Regions from separate parts of the Homo sapiens genome. Here region 1 is linked to region 2. Evidence: fine-mapped expression QTL. Tissue or cell type: whole blood. Region 2 holds a variant in brackets; the other region holds the start of a gene. All regions are shown on one strand. Distances are between the middles of the regions.

Evidence for each region. PIP is the estimated chance that this variant, and not a neighbour inherited with it, causes the effect.
Region 1: it holds the start of TMEM187, and the variant in region 2 is fine-mapped to the expression of TMEM187 in whole blood (TOPMed, PIP above 0.99). The same link has a PIP of 0.9 or more in blood mononuclear cells.

The regions. Positions count from the first base shown.
Region 1 is chrX:153,968,821-153,976,820 of GRCh38, reverse strand. It overlaps TMEM187 (transmembrane protein 187), which reads right to left and starts at 4,067. Exons shown (of 2, transcript NM_003492.3): 1 at 3,961-4,067. It overlaps HCFC1 (host cell factor C1), which reads left to right and starts at 5,003. Exons shown (of 26, transcript NM_005334.3): 1 at 5,003-6,173. The coding sequence starts at 5,981. HCFC1-AS1 (HCFC1 antisense RNA 1) reads right to left here. Exons shown (of 3, transcript NR_046608.3): 1 at 7,751-8,000; 2 at 7,450-7,622; 3 at 6,730-7,036. RefSeq lists silencers at 3,783-3,892, 4,003-4,452, 4,683-4,922, 7,419-7,597 and enhancers at 5,153-5,912, 5,554-6,403, 6,393-6,632.
Region 2 is chrX:153,940,765-153,948,764 of GRCh38, reverse strand. It overlaps RENBP (renin binding protein), which reads left to right and starts at 4,122. Exons shown (of 11, transcript NM_002910.6): 1 at 4,122-4,181; 2 at 4,347-4,456; 3 at 4,610-4,685; 4 at 4,795-4,870; 5 at 5,047-5,219; 6 at 5,686-5,910; 7 at 6,734-6,815; 8 at 7,112-7,287. The coding sequence starts at 4,155. HCFC1 (host cell factor C1) reads left to right here. Exons shown (of 26, transcript NM_005334.3): 26 at 1-1,208. RefSeq lists enhancers at 501-1,040, 3,207-3,970, 4,150-4,279 and a silencer at 3,880-3,939. The variant A/T (reference allele first, on the strand shown) is at 3,536.

The DNA of each region.
Region 1 (8,000 bases), 28 kb before region 2:
GGTGTGATTGCAGCTCACTGCAGCCTCCACCTCCCAGGCTCAAGTGGTCCTCTCACTTCAGCCTCCCAGGTAAATGGGACCACAGGCATGTTACCATGCCTGGCAAATTTTTAAATTTTTTTTGAAAGACAGGGTCTTGCTATGTTGCCCAGACTGGTCTCAAACTCCTAGGCTCAAGCGACCCTCTCACCTTGGCCTCCCAAAGTGCTGGGATTACAGGCGTGAGTTACTGCACCCAGCCAATAGTTTTTTATTTTTTTTATTTTTTATAGTTGGTTTTGGTTTTTTTTGAGACAGGGTCTCGCTCTGTCACCCAGGCTGGAGTGCAGTGGCACAATCTCGGCTCACCACAGCCTGCGTCTCCCAGGTTCAAGCAATTCTCCTGCCTCAGCCTCCCAAGTAGCTGGGATTATAGGCGCCTGCCACCACACCTGGCTAATTCTTGTATTTTTGGTAGAGATGGGGTTTCGCCATGTTGGCCAGGCTGGTCTCGAACTCCTGATCTCAGGTGATCTGGCCGTCTTGGCCTCCCAAAGTACTGGGATTACAGGCTTGAAACACCGCGCCCGCCAACAGTTTATTTTTAAATGGCTCAATAATATTCCATCATGTATCTATACCACATTTTCTTTACATATCAATCCACTGGTGGACACTTAGATTGCTTCCATATCTTAGCTATTATAAGTAGTACAAAGGCACGAAGAACCTACATTGGGGAAAGGATGGTCTCTTCAATAAATGGCACTGGGAAAATTGGATAAGTATGTGAAGAAGAATGAAAACTAGGCCCCTATCTCTCACCACACACAGTAATCAACTCAACATGGATTAAAGACTTAAAAGTAAGACCTGAAACTATAAAGCTACTAGAAGAGGCCAGCGCGGTGGCTCACACCTGTAATCCCAGCACACTGGGAGGTTGAGGCGGGCAGATCACTTAAGGTCAGGAGTTCTAGACCAGCCTGGCCAACACAGTGCAACCCCGTCTCTACTAAAAATACAAAAAGTAGCCGGGCGTGGTGGCGCACATCTGTAATCCCAGTTACTCAGGGGGCTGGGGCAGGAGAAATGCTTGAACCCAAGAGGAGGAGGTTGCAGTGAGCCAAGATCACACCACTGCACTCCAGCCTGGGGCGACAGAGCAAGACTCTGTCTTTAAAAAAAAAAAAAAAAAAAAAAAAAAAAAAAGGCTGGGTGTGGTGGCTCACACCTGTAATCCCAGCACACTGGGAGGCTGAGGCGGGCAGATCACCTGAGGTCAGGAGTTCCAGCCCAGCCTGTCCAACATGGTGAAACCCCATCTCTACTAAAAGTATAAAAATTAGCCAGGGTGGTGGCATGCGCCTGTAATCCCAGCTACTTGTGAGGGTGTGGCAGGAGAATCGCTTGATCCCAGGAGGCTAAGGTTGCAGTGAGCCAAGATTGTGCCACTGCACTCCAGCCTGGGTTTCAGAGTGAGACTGTGTCTCAAAAAATAAATAAATAAATAAATACAAATAATAAAATAAATAAAATAAAACTACTAGAAGAAAATGGGGAAATGCTCCAGGAAAGATTTTATGGCTAAGACCCCAAAATCACAGGCAACAAAAACAAAAACAGACAAATGGGAGTATATTAAAGTAAAAAGCTTTTGCACAGCACAGAAGCAATCAACAATGAAGAGACAATATAGGAGAAAATATTTGCAAATGATTCATGTGACAAGCACTGTTTATTTTTGAGGTGCAATGTCCATCTGCCCTACTGCAATTTAGGCCCCAAATGGGTGGGACAGGGTCTGATTCCTTGCTCTTCCTCAGATGCCCAGTGAAGCCCTGCTCAATTTCAATTCAATTATATTAAAGAACAAAGCCAGCACCTCTGCTCCCTTTTACCAGTCCTGTTTGCTATTTCACTTCTCAAGCAGGTCCTGGGGCCCACCGCATCCTCCTGGGCCTCATTCTCAGCCTTCTTGCCTTGGAGTTCCGTTGCTGAGGAGGGCCACCAGGCTTGGCATGTGGGTGCCCCATTGCCCTCTGAAGCATGGTGTTGCCACACAGGAACCACAGTCCTCACTATCACTCCATACGTCCTTGCTTCACACAAGCCTGCCATCTCAGCATGGGGCACCCGAACTCCTCCTGCCCCGTCCTCCCAGTCAAAAAAGCCTCTGGGTCCAGGGGTGTGCACACCGCAGCCCCAGCATCTTTGAGCAGCCCTGGATGGGATCATGTCTGCCCTGGCTTTCCACCCTTCCATGACCAGCTTCCCATTCCATGTCCTGGATCATGTCCCAAAGTCTTGGCCAGACTTAAAGTGCCATCCCCATCCAGCCCTGTGAGCTCCTCAGGCCCAGCTCTGTCCTGGAAGCCCTTTGCCCACTTCGCCTGGCCATTGCCCTTGACTCAGCTGTCATTTCCTCTCAGGCACTTCCCCGTTCAGCTCCTGACTCCAGCTGAGACACCAGCTGAGGCCCCGCATGGCGTCTACAGGTCCTTCCCTGCACCCACCTAGGGCCCCATGGCACCCATGCTAGTCTGACCCTCCTGCCTGCCAGCAAGCAGGGCGGAGAGCTGGAACAAGAGTCAAACACTGTCAACTTGATCGAGGAAGAACTCCAGGAAGGGCATGGAAAGCAACTCCTCTTTCCGGCTGCAGGGGTTCAGTCTATCTGACCGGGGGTACGGGCTGACAGTGACCATGTAATCAAAGCACCTGTCCAAGACCCCCAGGAAAACCGAGCTGGTTACCTTATAGCCTAGCTTCCCTGTACCTTTGAATTGCCATGATCCTTATTATGTGACACTCAAATCTCGTCACAGCTTCCCCCAGCGCCTGGCATGGGAAAGCCAACACCTCAACAGCACTGGCCCCTGGGTCTGGGGTCTTTCAGGGAAGCCCTGGGAAGCCTGACAATCTCCTGGCTAAAGGCCCCAGACTCTCCCGCACGCGTTTAAACAGCAGGCACTGTCACCTCCAGGCCTTTAGCATTTATGGTTAGTTATGTCCCCCGCTCCGCATGACCTTTCTTGCTGTCTTTCTGTGGATAAAGGAATATCAATTAACATTAATTTAGCTTCTGGACTGATTCCAGGCAAGGCCCTTGGAAACCAGCAGCTGCTTTTGTGTGTGTGTGTGTGTGTGTGTGTGTTTTTGAGACAGGGTCTTGCTCTGTCGCCCAGGCTGGAGCAGTGGCGCGATCTCAGCTCACTGCAGCCCTGAACTCCCTGGCTCAAGCCATCCTCCCACCTCAGCGTTCCAAGTACCTGGGACCACAGGCGTGTGCCACCATGCCTCCGGGTCTCGCTATGTTGCCCCGGCTAGGCTCAAGCAATCCTCCCACCTCAGCCTTCCAAAGTGTTGGGATTACAGGCATGAGCCAACGCATCAGGCCTTAGTTTTCTTATTTACCATGGGTGGGGGACTTGGGGACATATGTGAGGTAACTAGCCAAGGTCACAAAGAGCAGGTGGTGGCACAGACAGGCAAGAATTCTTCTCTTTGTCCCTTCTCAAATGGATACTTCCAACTGCATGAACTAAAACACAGACGATTACAAAATACATGTAATATGTTGAGAGGCGACTTTAAAAATATTGTTGAAAATGTGTGAGAGGGTGACGTGTGCTTCTTTACTAACGCATTAAATTACAAGGTCTTCCAGCAGGACGCATAACTTCAGTAACTTCAAAGTAATAATTCTGCCCGCCGGTAGATCTGGTAGATCTTGTAATTTAACTGAACTTCTAGACGTTTACAACAAAAGCCACAGGCTCTGACAGGACCGGTCTGTCCATTTCTACTGGCGACTGCCGCTCCCGGGCAGCAGCTTGGGTCCCCGCGCTGCGGCCTGCGCGTGGCAGGGCGGATGCCGCCGCCGCCGCCGCCGCCGCCGCGCCCGGGCGGCCTCCTAGAGGAGGCGAAACGTGGGGGCGAGGCCGGGACCCACCTCCCAGGGCTGCGGTGAGCACTTACAGTATTGGCGCGAAAAGGCCAGCTATCACCATACGGGTATTTCGCCTCACTCGCCTCGCTGGGGGAAATTCAAATCTCCGAAAAGGGAGGATCCGAGCAGCGCCGGTGCGCCTGCGCGCAGGGCGGGACTCGAAGCCTGGGAAGCGGGCGGGGCGAGGTGACGCGAGATGACGCGGACGCCTCCCGCGGTCGCCCGCCCGGCTCGTGCGCCACCGGCCCGACTGCGGGCCTCTCGGCAGTGGGGGCGGCCGAGCGCGCGGCGGTCTGGGGCGCGCGGCCCGGCTCATTTTGCTGCGGCGCGGGCGGAGGCGGTGGCGCCCGAGGGCGGGCCCCGCAGCCTGGGAGCCTGGGAGCGGGCGGAGGCTCCACCCCCGGGCGCCGGCGCTCGGCTGCGTCGCCTCCCACTGTCGCCCCGCCCCCGGCTCCCCCGCGGCGCGCCTCGGGCCGCCTCCTGCGGCTGCTGGGTGTGCAGGGCGCGAAAATGCTCGCTTCCCGGCCGCAGGCGCGGCTGCAGTGGCTGTTCGCCAACCCCGGCCACCTGCGTGCCGCTGTCCCCAGTGCTGGTTAAAGGCAGTTCTTCGGGCGTGCGTCCCTTATCAACCCGAGAGACCGTTCCCAAGGGGGCGGGGCCGAGCGCGTCGGAGGGGTTAGCAGTCTCATCCGGGCATTTCCGAGATGCCGCCGCCGCCATCTTTGTTTTGTGCTGAAAGTCGCTATTGACGCCCGCGGACGGCCGGGCGAGGGGAAGTGGCAAGATGGCGGCTCCCAGGGCGGAGGCGTGGAGGCTCGCCCGGTGGGGGGGCCGTGGGGCGGGGCGCGCCTGCGCCTGCACCTGATCTGAGCGCGACTCGAGCTTTAGCCCAGCGCGCGGCAGCGCCGACCCCCACCCCCGCCGCGAGGCAGCGCAGGGGTCCTTTAAGAGGCTTGGGCCCAGGGGCGAAGCGGTGCGAGGGCGAGTGGGGGGAAGCGGTGACGTCACCCGGCTCCGCCTCCTCGCCCGACCGCCGGCGCCGCTGCCGCCATGTTTAGTTGTTACTTCTTCACACAAGATGGCGGCTCCCAGGGAGGAGGCATGAGCGCCCTGCCGTTACCGCTTCTTCTGCCGTACAGTTGCCGCTTCGGGGCCTAACTCTAGCTCTTTGAAGCGGCTCCTGTGGGAAGGAGTCATAAGGCGGGAAGTGAGGATCGGACACCGCCTTGAGTTTGGTGTGCAGTGGAAGAACTGACCTAGGAGGAAGAGAATAGGGGGGAACGGGGAGCTAGTCTCAAGATGGCGGCTCCCACGGCGGCAGGCGCAGCCTGAGCAGCAGAGGCGGACTAAGGGGAGAGGCGCGAGACTTCACAAGCCGTACGGCGCGAGCCCCCAAACGGCCCTCGAGAGCTCGAGCTGGTTCCACCGGCCTCCGGCCCGCCTCCATTCGTTAGGTGTGTCGAGGCTGTTTCGGGAGCGGCGGCTGCACTAAGGCGCTGGGCGGGGAAGCGGGACGGTCTCAAGATGGCGGCTCCCACAATTGTGGTCTGAGCGCCGGCGGGGCTGCGACGACCGCGGCGCTTGTGGCTCCTTTCCACCCGCCCCGGAAGCCGGCCAGTGCTGGGGACTTGGGGGTGTGGGAACCGGGCCGGGGCTCCGCCATTTCCGGCGGGGGAGGGCTACGACTGAGGAAGGGAGGAGAGAGAGGCGGCTCAAGATGGCGGCTCCCAGGGCCTCCCGCCCGAGCTTGTAAGCGGGAGCGCCCGGACAAGTAGTCGGGGCGACGGGACTCAGCGGCCTCCAGCTTCTTGAGCCTAGGCGCTCGACAGTTTCGGGCGGCTCTTGCGGAGACGGGGTGAGCGAGAAGAAAGGGAAGAGCCAAAGGGAAGGAGGGCAGTTAAGATGGCGGCCTCCATGGAGTCGTCTACCGCTGTGTGAGAAACCGCTTCTCCGTGAGAGCTGCCTTAGACGAAAGGGGGTGTGTGAAAGGAATTGAGGGGCTCCCTTCCCGCTTGTTGACTTCTCCCCACCGCACCCTTTCCCGGAACTATGGCTTCGGCCGTGTCGCCCGCCAACTTGCCAGCGGTGCTTCTGCAGCCCCGCTGGAAGCGAGTGGTGGGCTGGTCGGGTCCGGTGCCACGGCCCCGCCACGGCCACCGCGCCGTGGCCATCAAGGAGCTCATCGTGGTGTTTGGCGGCGGCAACGAGGGAATAGTGGACGAACTGCACGTGTACAACACGGGTGAGTGCAAAGCCCGCTGGGTCTTCGGCTCTTTCCCTCCCTCCATCTCCTCCCTCTCCCTCCTCTTTCCTCCCTCCCTCCATCTGCTCCCTCCCTCTCCTCCCTCCCTCCATCTCCTCCCTCACCCTCTACCCTTCCCTCTCTCTCTCCCCTCCTCCCTTACCCGTCCTTCTCCCCTCTCCCCGTCCCCCTCCCCCTTCTCCCCTCCTCCCCCTCCCTCCCCACTGATCGGCTTGCCCCTCCCCTTTGCTGTGCCGGGCTTCAGTGCTTTTCTCTGATCTTCTCCCCGTTCCCTTGTCTCTCCCGTGTTTGAGGATTGGTTTTCGTTAGTTAAAAGAAAGCCCCTAGTCCGACTGGTGAGGGAGAGGGGCTGTCGCCAGCGGTGGTGACTTCAGACCCACACCGTTACCCAGCGGGCTGGGGCTGGGGCTGGGGCGGGCGGATGTGTCCCCTTGGCGCAGGCAGAGCTCCCCTCCCTCCCTCCCTCCCTTCTCCTGCGCCTGCTCAGCTCTCCCTCATCTCGAGTGCCCATTCTGGAGAAATGACCATTTCTAGATTACAGATTCGTTCTCTGTCTCTCGAAAAAGGGAGGGAAGGGAAGCGCTCTTAGGACGCAGAGTTTAACATCCGCCGACCCGGGTAATGCCGGAGCCTTGGGGACCCCTAGGACGGGCCGGCGGCAGGGCCGCCTCTCCCTTTCCACGTTTACTTCTGCAGCATTTCTTTCCAAGTCGCCCCTTCTCCTAATCTGGTGCCTTCTGGTTTACAAGCTGAATTCCAGTTACCCCTCAGCGGCCTGCGTAGTCGTGTGTCTCCCCGCTTCTGCGGATCCAGGGGGTTACCCCACCCGCTCTTCTGCCTCCCTGCAAAACCCAAAGCCCGTTAGTTGGGAAGGGGAGGAACCTCTCTCTTCAGGTATGGCTGATGCACCACGGCCTTCGTGGGGGCCGTTTGTTGTTGCCTCTGCCTAGTAGCCTTGCTTAGTCTCTAGGGCAGAAAGCCTGCTGCTGTCCACGACAGCTTTGTGGCATCCTTTTTCTTGGTGGCTACTTGGCCCGTTTTGTGCCCCTAGCACAAGGGTCAGTTCCCAAGTTGCCTACTGACTGCCCGTTGGCCCACAGGACCCTGGCCTTGCCCAGAAGGCAGGGTCAGGGTGAGTTCGGTCCCAGGCAAGAGCTGGAAGAGTCTGGGTGAGGGAAAAGCCCCCTGCAGGCGGCTGGGGGAGGGCCTTGGGATGCCCTAGTCCTGAGTGGCAGGCACGGCTCCCAGCACTAACCCCTTGCTCCGCGGCCGTTCTCTCCTGGGGGCTCTAGCGATCCCCTGGCCTCGGTGGTGGCCCTGCAGACAAACCCTCGCTGAGTGGGCTTTGTGTCCTGAGCGGTGAGAGGCTGCTGTTCTTTGGCTGAGCTCCAGTGCCTCGATGCTCTGGGGGTGGGAAGCTGGAGCTGCCTGGAGGGAGAAAGTTGGTTTAGGGAGTTGGGAAGGCTGGAGCTGGGCTCTTGGGTGCCGCTTCCTTCCCCACCCCCCAAGGCAGAAAGTGCTGGTTTCTCCACATCTCGGAGATTATCGCCACCTACCACGTTGACTTTGAAAGGCTGGTGGGTTGTCTGTGACCGTTTTTCGTTCCAGGTCTCTCAGCACCTGTTGCCTCCAGGGAGCAGGGCCTTTCTCAGCAGCCCCCGGGCGGGGGCGCTTGGTGGTTGGTGGTGCCCCGCGCCAGCCCAGGCAGCTGCAGTAGCAGGAATTAGCTCAGTAAGCTAAGGCTTCTCCAGTGGTGGGGCTGTTTATAGAGGCACCGTCACCATGAGCAGCACCTTCTCCACTCTG
Region 2 (8,000 bases):
CTTCTTTCCCATTTTAAAAAAGAAAAGAAGGAAAAAGAAAAAAGGGGCAAGGAGCCCCGCGGCGGCCTGGGCAGCGCCTGTGCAGACCTCCCTGCAGGCCGCACTGCCAACTGCTGCATTTGTTGTGTTTTTTAGGTTGCAATTGGTGAAGTTCACACTTTCATTGTAATTTTAGCGTGTGGGGTTTTGTCCCTTTTTTGTTGTTGTTAGCTGTGTACAGAATGTGTAATCTTTTTTCTTTTCTCTTTTTTTTGTTTTGTTTTGTTTTGTTTTTGTTTTTTTACTTTTTTCTTCTTGGCTAATTCTTGGCAGGGATCTTTCTGGAGGAAAAGCTGGGGCCAGCCAGGGCAGGAGAGGTGTGAAATCTGCCACGAGGGGCCTGCTGTTTGCCACCCAGCCCAACTTCCTGTTGCTGGCCCCTGCCCTCTGCCCTTTTGCCTGTCCTCAGGCCGCTGGAACAAAGGAAGGACAGCTCATTCCTCATGGGCGATCACTCCGCATCTATAGGGTCGAGCCTAGGGGAGCTTGAGGGAGGGCTGGGGCCTCCTTGTCCTGGATTTCCAGCTCTCCCCATGCCCCCTCCCTGAGCACCACCGGCACCGCCTCCCAAACAGGGCTGCTGGTTTCCGCAGCCACTGCTCCACCTCCCCCAAATCGTCATGGAAAGGGTGGAGAATGGAGGGGAACCAGGCGTCCTTGGAGGCAGCTTGGGAGGGTGACTGTGTAGTGTCACCCACAAGGGAGGCTAGGGCAATGGAGCAGGCCACCAGCAGCAGCTGTGCAGCATGGAACTCAGGCCAGGCTCCGAGGCTGGGGGATCTGCTTGGAGTTTTCTGCCCCCCACCCCAAACTTCTGTCGAGGAGCAAGGCTTGCCAGCAAGTCAGAAGGATTTGAACCGAGCAGCCAATCTTTCCAGCCCTCCCCTACCGACCTCTGCCTGGAGACGCAGCAGCCTGTGTCCTCCAGGGCCTCTGGTTTGTTGTATTATAGTATATTTCGCTGTGGAAAATGTCACGTTTAGTCACCTTGGAGCCCACTCACCTGGTCCTGTTGTTTTACCCCATCCCTTCTCTCGCGCGCCTATTGATTTGTTTCTGAGGAGAGTACACCGTTCACTATTGTAGAGTAACCCCTGTGACTCAATATTACCATAGTGCGATGTCGTTTTGTGCTATTTTGAACAATTAAAAGACTTTTTTTGAAATAACCACTAGGTGTCTCACTGTGTCCCGGCATCCTCTCAGGAAGCCTGAGCGGGAAGGCTGAGACCTGCCCGAGGCTCACGGGAGCCCCCTGGAGGGAGACCTGAGCTCTGGTGAAAGCGTAGAAGGCCCCAGAGTGAGGCCTCTGCTGTGGCCTCCGGTCTTTGGACCAAGTCGGACCAGGGTCCAGCAGGTTGCTTGGTAGCTGCCTTGCAGGGCAAGGGCCAAAGAGCCCCTTGGGCAGCTGCTGCTGACTTCCTGTGTCTGGGGCCCAGATCTCCCTCCCTCCCCTCCTGCACTAGAGGATAGGATGGGGCAAGGGCCTGGCAGGTCACCAGCGGCAGCCTCCTTGGGTGGGTTGGGGGGAGGTGGGCTGAGTCAAGTACACCACGGGTACTGCAGAGGTGGATCCCTTCCTCTGGCTTCCTCTTAAATGTGAGCCATGCCCCCAAGGGGAAGAAGCAAGAGCTTGTGATCCAGACTGACCACCTAGCAGCTGGGTCGGTAGGACAGCTGGGATCCCGTGGGCTGAATTTGTACCAGGAGGCCCAGAAAGCTCCGGGGCAAGGTGGCCGGAGCAGCACAGGCCTAGGCGGGTCTGAGGGGAGTGACACCCTGCTTCTGGGGCCTGGTGCTCCTGGCGCACCTGCATTCCCCGCCCCCTCCAAGCCCCTGCCGCCTGCCTTTGTTTCCCCTACACACCTCTACTGCCCAGCCTTCCTCTCAGAGCACCCAGGCACTCCGCTACCAGAAGCTCCTGGAGTAACCAAAGCCTCCGTGTCTCCACCTGTGGCATGGGTGTGTGTGCAAGGCCCTGTCGAATGCGACCTCTTCTGGGAAGCCTCTGTCCTGTGGGGTCTGCTGTGTCATGTGGGGGTGGGGGGAAGCAGACTGGCCAGGGCTTGACACCAGGAGCCATGGCTCTGTCTTACCCACCGCACCAACTGTGACCTGCCTTGGAGCCTAGCCTCGCAGAGGCCCAAGGAGAGGGGTGGGAAAGTGTCCTTCAGAGCAGAGCGGTAGGAGTCATGGCTGGGGCTGGTGGAGGCCAGGGGCCACATGGGGCTGGCCCCAGAACCGAGGGGCCTTGCGGATTTGCCATACCTTTGGCAAATGGCGTTGTGGGCGCTTCGCCTGGTGGGGGTGGTACAAGGCTTCTTCCTACCCCACTTCTGTAGCTGGCACCTGTGGGGCTACCCACCCTCCGCATTCCTTCAGCTCACTTGTCTCACCGCGGCTGCATCACACTCCACAAGGCAAGGGCCACATCAGTCATGCCTCTGGTGTTTATCTGAAAATACCGCGTTTCCGTCTGAGGGCACCACTCAGTCTGGGGAGGCAGGAGGGAGGCTGGACATGAATGTGAACATGACAGGCCTGTGAGCAGGGCAGGTAGATACAGCCCGGCTGGGCACAAAGCTCATCCCCTGAGCATGAGCCGAGGCCGAGGGTGGGTGGGAGCACACAGAGGATGCCTCCCCAGCTGCCAGGGCATCAGCCTCATTACCAAGCACCCCAAAGGGGAACTGTTTGGGGTTGGGTGGGTCAGCCTGCAGCAGGGACTGAGACAGCCACTGTGGCATCAAAGACCAGCAGTGCAGTACCCACGCCCAGAGGCTGGAACCCATTTTGTGCACTGTTGGCCTGGAAGGTAGGAACCACCTCAGCCCAGCTGCCTTGTAGCATCATCGGGTCAGTCATAGAGCTACAGACAGATCTGGGCAGCTGGAAAACAGGCCCAGAGAAGGGGGGTGTGGGCTGTTACCTGCAGTTACTGTCTGGCCTTAGAGCTGTGTCACTTGTGTAAAGAAGTCAGTGCCAAGGCCGAGCGCGGTGGCTCACACCTGTAATACCAACACTTTGGGAGGCCGAGGCAGGTGGATCACGAGGTCAAGAATTTGAGACCAGCCTGGCCAACATGGTGAAAAACCGTCTACTAAAAAAAAAAAAAAAAAAAAAAAAAAAATTAGCTAGGCATGGTGGCAGGCACCTGTAATCCCAGCTACTCCAGAGGCCGAGGCAGGAGAATTGCTTAAACCCGGGAAGCGGAGGTTATAGTGAGCCAAGATCATGCCACTGCACTCCAGCCTGGGCGACAGAGCAAGACCCCATCTTGGGAAAAAAAAAAAAAAAATTAGCGCCAATGGCTGCCCATTACTGACTGTTGAGGTAGTTGGTGACAAACTGATTCAAAAGAGAGGACTTGCTAGGCTGGGTGCGGTGGCTCACGCCTGTAATCCCAGCACTTTGGGAGGCTGACGCAGGAGGATCGCTTGAGCTTAGGAGTTCGAGACCAGCCTGGGCAACATTGCAAAACCCTGTCTCCACTAAA[A/T]ATACAAAAATTAGCCAGGCATGGTGGCCCACACCTGTGGTCCCACCTACTCAGGAGGCTGAGGTGGGAGGATCGCTTGAGCCTGGCAGGTCAAGGCTGCAGTGAGCTGCCTGGGCGACAGGACACTGTCTCAAAAAACAAAGAAACAAACAACAACAACAACAACAAAAACAGAACTTGCCTCCTGTCTACCCTGTGTGGTGACAGGTCAGAGGGACCTCTGCATTCAGGCCCACTAGCTGTTCCCTGTCCTGCTGCACCCCTGCCCCACAGGCTTGGTAGGGCCAAGGCCCTCAGCCGCCCTGCCGGGGCCCCTGGTGTAGGGCGGGGTGGGTGGCAGCCCCGTTCCCCCTCATCCCAGACCCTCCGGCCATCCCAGCTTTTCCCACCAAGCAGGATCTTGAGACCAGAGCTCCCAGCAGGGGCCCTGGAGGGACTGGCCCATTCGAGTGGAGGGTCGCGGCAGGAACAAGTGCGGGGGTCGGGCTCAAAGCCCCGCCCCAGGCCCAGCGGAACCCTGAAGAGGAGGGGGAGGGTGAGCCGGGCGCGGCTGTGTCAGCTGAGTGACAGTCACGGGACCGCGACCAACTCTGTCTGGCTTCCTAGAGGAGCAGGAGGGATGAGCAAGGGTCTCCCAGCGCGACAGGCCAGTGGTGGGGTGCTTGGGGGGAGTGCTGTCTTGGAGGGTCCCGGGGATGGTGACGTCTGAAGCCCCGTGCAGAGGTGGGGAGATCCCTGAGGGCTGGTTCCCGAGGCTGGGGGGGCCTAGGTCCCATGTGGGGGCTGCGCCTTCAAGCCCCATTTCCCCTAGGACATGGAGAAAGAGCGAGAGACTCTGCAGGCCTGGAAGGAGCGCGTGGGGCAGGAGCTGGACCGCGTGGTGGCTTTCTGGATGGAGCACTCCCACGACCAGGAGCACGGGTACTCGGCGTGCTTCTGGAGTCCTCAGCAGGGTTTTTGCCCTTCCTGAGGCCCCTTCTCACTCTCAGGCACCTCACAGATTTGCTGGCCCCAGAGGGGCAGGAGGGGCTGGCAAGGCCCGTTCCAGACTTTGCTAACCCTGCCTTCCCACAGGGGCTTCTTCACGTGCCTTGGCCGCGAGGGGCGGGTGTATGATGACCTCAAGTATGTGTGGCTGCAGGGGAGGCAGGTATGGTGTTCCCAGCCTGGAAGCTCAGGCACACGGCCCATCGCCTCAAAGGTCTCCCCACCTCACCCCAGCCGGCCACTTAAGCCACTTTCCCTCCCGTACCCCGCAGGTATGGATGTATTGTCGCCTGTACCGCACTTTCGAGCGCTTCCGCCATGCTCAGCTTCTGGACGCAGCAAAAGCAGGTAGGTGCCCCCTTCCTGCCCATCTCCCAGTGACTCCGTCCATGTTTACTCAACAGGGCACATGTGCGGAGTTCCTAGAGGGATCTAGAAGCAGCGAAGGACTTGGGGAGGCTCAAGGGTGGTGTGTGCGGGGCGTCCTGGCCTTACCCCTGGCATGCCAACCCCCCAACCTCCAGGTGGTGAGTTCTTGCTGCGGTATGCCCGGGTGGCACCTCCTGGCAAGAAGTGTGCCTTTGTGCTGACTCGGGACGGCCGCCCGGTCAAGGTGCAGCGAACCATCTTCAGTGAGTGTTTCTACACCATGGCCATGAACGAGCTGTGGAGAGCCACAGGGGAAGTGCGGTACCAGGTGTGTGAGAGGAGGGTGCCCCTGAAGACCCCACCCTGCGACCCTGCCATGGCCACCTGATGCATTCCCACTCACTACGCAAGTCCCCTCCCATGGACCCATCTGTGGGCCAAGTCCCCTTCACCTCTGAACGCTCCCCTACCCCCACAGGGGCGCAGACGGAGAGGGCCCTATCCACGCCCTGCCCCCAACTGGGAAAAGGCCCTTCCCTCCTCCCTGGGCTCCCTGTGCTGCCAGACCCTGACCCCACAGCCTGGAAGGGGCTGCACCCCCAGACTGGGAGCAGAGTGGGGCGGATCTGACTGGCCCCTACTGGACGCTGGGTGCCAGGCCCCAAGTAGGCCCTGGATGAAGGTGTCTCTGGGTTCAGGAGAGGAATTGGCTCTCCCACCCCAGGGCCGTGTCCAGGGGGATGGCACAGGATGTAGCCTCAGCCTGGGCCTCCCCTTGCCTCCTGCACCCCCAGACGGAAGCGGTGGAGATGATGGATCAGATCGTCCACTGGGTGCAGGAGGACGCGTCGGGACTGGGCCGGCCCCAGCTCCAGGGGGCCCCGGCTGCGGAGCCCATGGCGGTGCCCATGATGCTACTGAACCTGGTGGAGCAGCTCGGGGAGGCAGATGAGGAGCTGGCGGGCAAATACGCAGAGCTGGGGGACTGGTGCGCCCGGAGGATTCTGCAGCACGTGCAGGTGGGGGATGCCTGGGGAGCTGGGGTGGTGGGAGGCCTTCCACTCCCCCACTCCCCTGGGCACCCTGGGGCTCGACACACCTGGAGAGACAGAGATTCGGGGATGTCCCCACCTGGGGAAGGTGGAGGGCCTGAGGGCTGGAGGGAGGATGCGGAGCCCCAGGCAAGCCCTGACAGAAGGAGACCCCTCCTGCCCCACCCAAGTCCCTTCCAGGCCTCTGGGCCGTGAAACCCGCCCTGTCTGTCCCCATTCAATGTTTCACCCTCCCCTGCTGGAGAGGATCAGGCCAGAAGTGAGGATTACATCTTCCTAGGCCCGGGCTGGACGCGGTGGCTCGTGCCTGTAATCCCAGCAGTTTGGGAGGCTGAGGCGGGCGGATCACCTGAGGTCAGGAGTTGGAGACCAGCCTGGCCAATATAGTGAAACCCCGTCTCTACTAAAAATACAAAAATTAGCTGGGCATGGTGGTGCATGCCTGTAATCCCAGCCTCTAGGGAGGCTGAGGCAGGAGAATCGCATGAACCCAGGAGGTGGAGATTGTAGTGAGTCGAGATTGCGGCCACTGCACTTTAGCCTGGGTGACAGAGCAAGACTCTGTCTAAAAAAAAAAAAAAAAAAAAAAAACAACAACTTGCTAGGCCCAAGGGAGTGAATCAGCCCCTCCTTAAATGCCCCTCTGAGCCTGGCCCACCCAAGCCAGCAGGTCCAGGGGCTTGGGTAAGAGGGAGGGAGGAAGGGCTTTCCGGAGCTGGGTCTTTCTAGTTGGGTGGCTGGGTGGGTGAAAGGGCTGGAGGCAACATTCCCTTCTGCTCCTTCCCGGTAGAGGGATGGACAAGCTGTGCTGGAGAATGTGTCAGAGGGTGGCAAGGAACTTCCTGGCTGCCTGGGGAGACAGCAGAACCCAGGTGAGGGGCGGGGTGGGCTGGGGGCCACCCAGGAGGAGGGGAGCGCTGAGCCTTGTGTTCTGGGCTTCAGATATGGGAGTGCCTGGCGGGGGCGCCTTGAGGAGGCAGAGGAGCGAGGATGGGCTTCCCAAGGCTGGGGGTTTCTGCAGAGGAGCAGGCTTCCAGGGCCAGGGAGCTCAGAGCCTCGCTCATTGTTAGGGAGGGAGCAGAGAGGTGCCAGGGGCTTTTGCTCCCTCTGTTCCCTCCCTCAACCCCACCCCCCGCCCCCCGCCCTTCCGTACTCCACCCCTCACCAGGCCACACGCTGGAAGCCGGCTGGTTTCTGCTCCGTCATTGCATTCGGAAAGGCGACCCCGAACTTCGAGCCCACGTGATTGACAAGTTCCTATTGTTGCCCTTCCACTCCGGATGGGACCCTGACCACGGAGGCCTCTTTTACTTCCAGGATGCTGATAACTTCTGCCCCACCCAGGTGGGAGAGCGCCCAGGGCCATGTGTGACCCACGCTGTTCTAAGGCTTTCTGCCCAGGGAGGTGGTTGCTTCTCTAGAGGGTAACCTGGGGCTGGATTGGAACCTAGAGGCCTGCTCTCAGCTTCTGTGCCAGTGTTACAGGAAAGGGGTCGTGATCCAGACCCCAGAAGAGGGAGGGTTCTTGGATCTTGCCCAAGAAAGAATTCAGGGCGAGTCCGCAATGCAAAGTGAAAGCAAGTTTATTAAGAAAGTAAAGGAATAAAAGAATGGTTACTCCATAGGCAGAGCAGCCCTGAGGGCTGCTGGTTGCCTTTTTTTTTTTTTTTTTTTTTTTTTTTGAGGTGGAGTTTTGCTCTTGCTGCCCAGGCTGGAGTGCAATGGCGCCATCTCGGCTCACCACAACCTCTGCTTCCCGGGTTCAAGCGATTCTCCTGCCCTAGCCTCCCGAGTAGCTAGGATTACAGGCATGGGCCACCATGCCTGGCTAATTTTGTATTTTTAGTAGAGACGGGGTTTCTCCATGTTGGTCAGGCTGGTCTCGAACTCCCGACCTCAGGTGATCCGCCCGCCTCAGCCTCCCAAAGTGCTGGGATTATAGGCGTGAGCCACCGCACCCGGCTGGTTGCCCATTTTTATGCTTATTTCTTGATGATATGCTAAACAAGGGGTGGATTATTCATGCCTCCCCTTTTTAGACCATATAGGGTAACTTC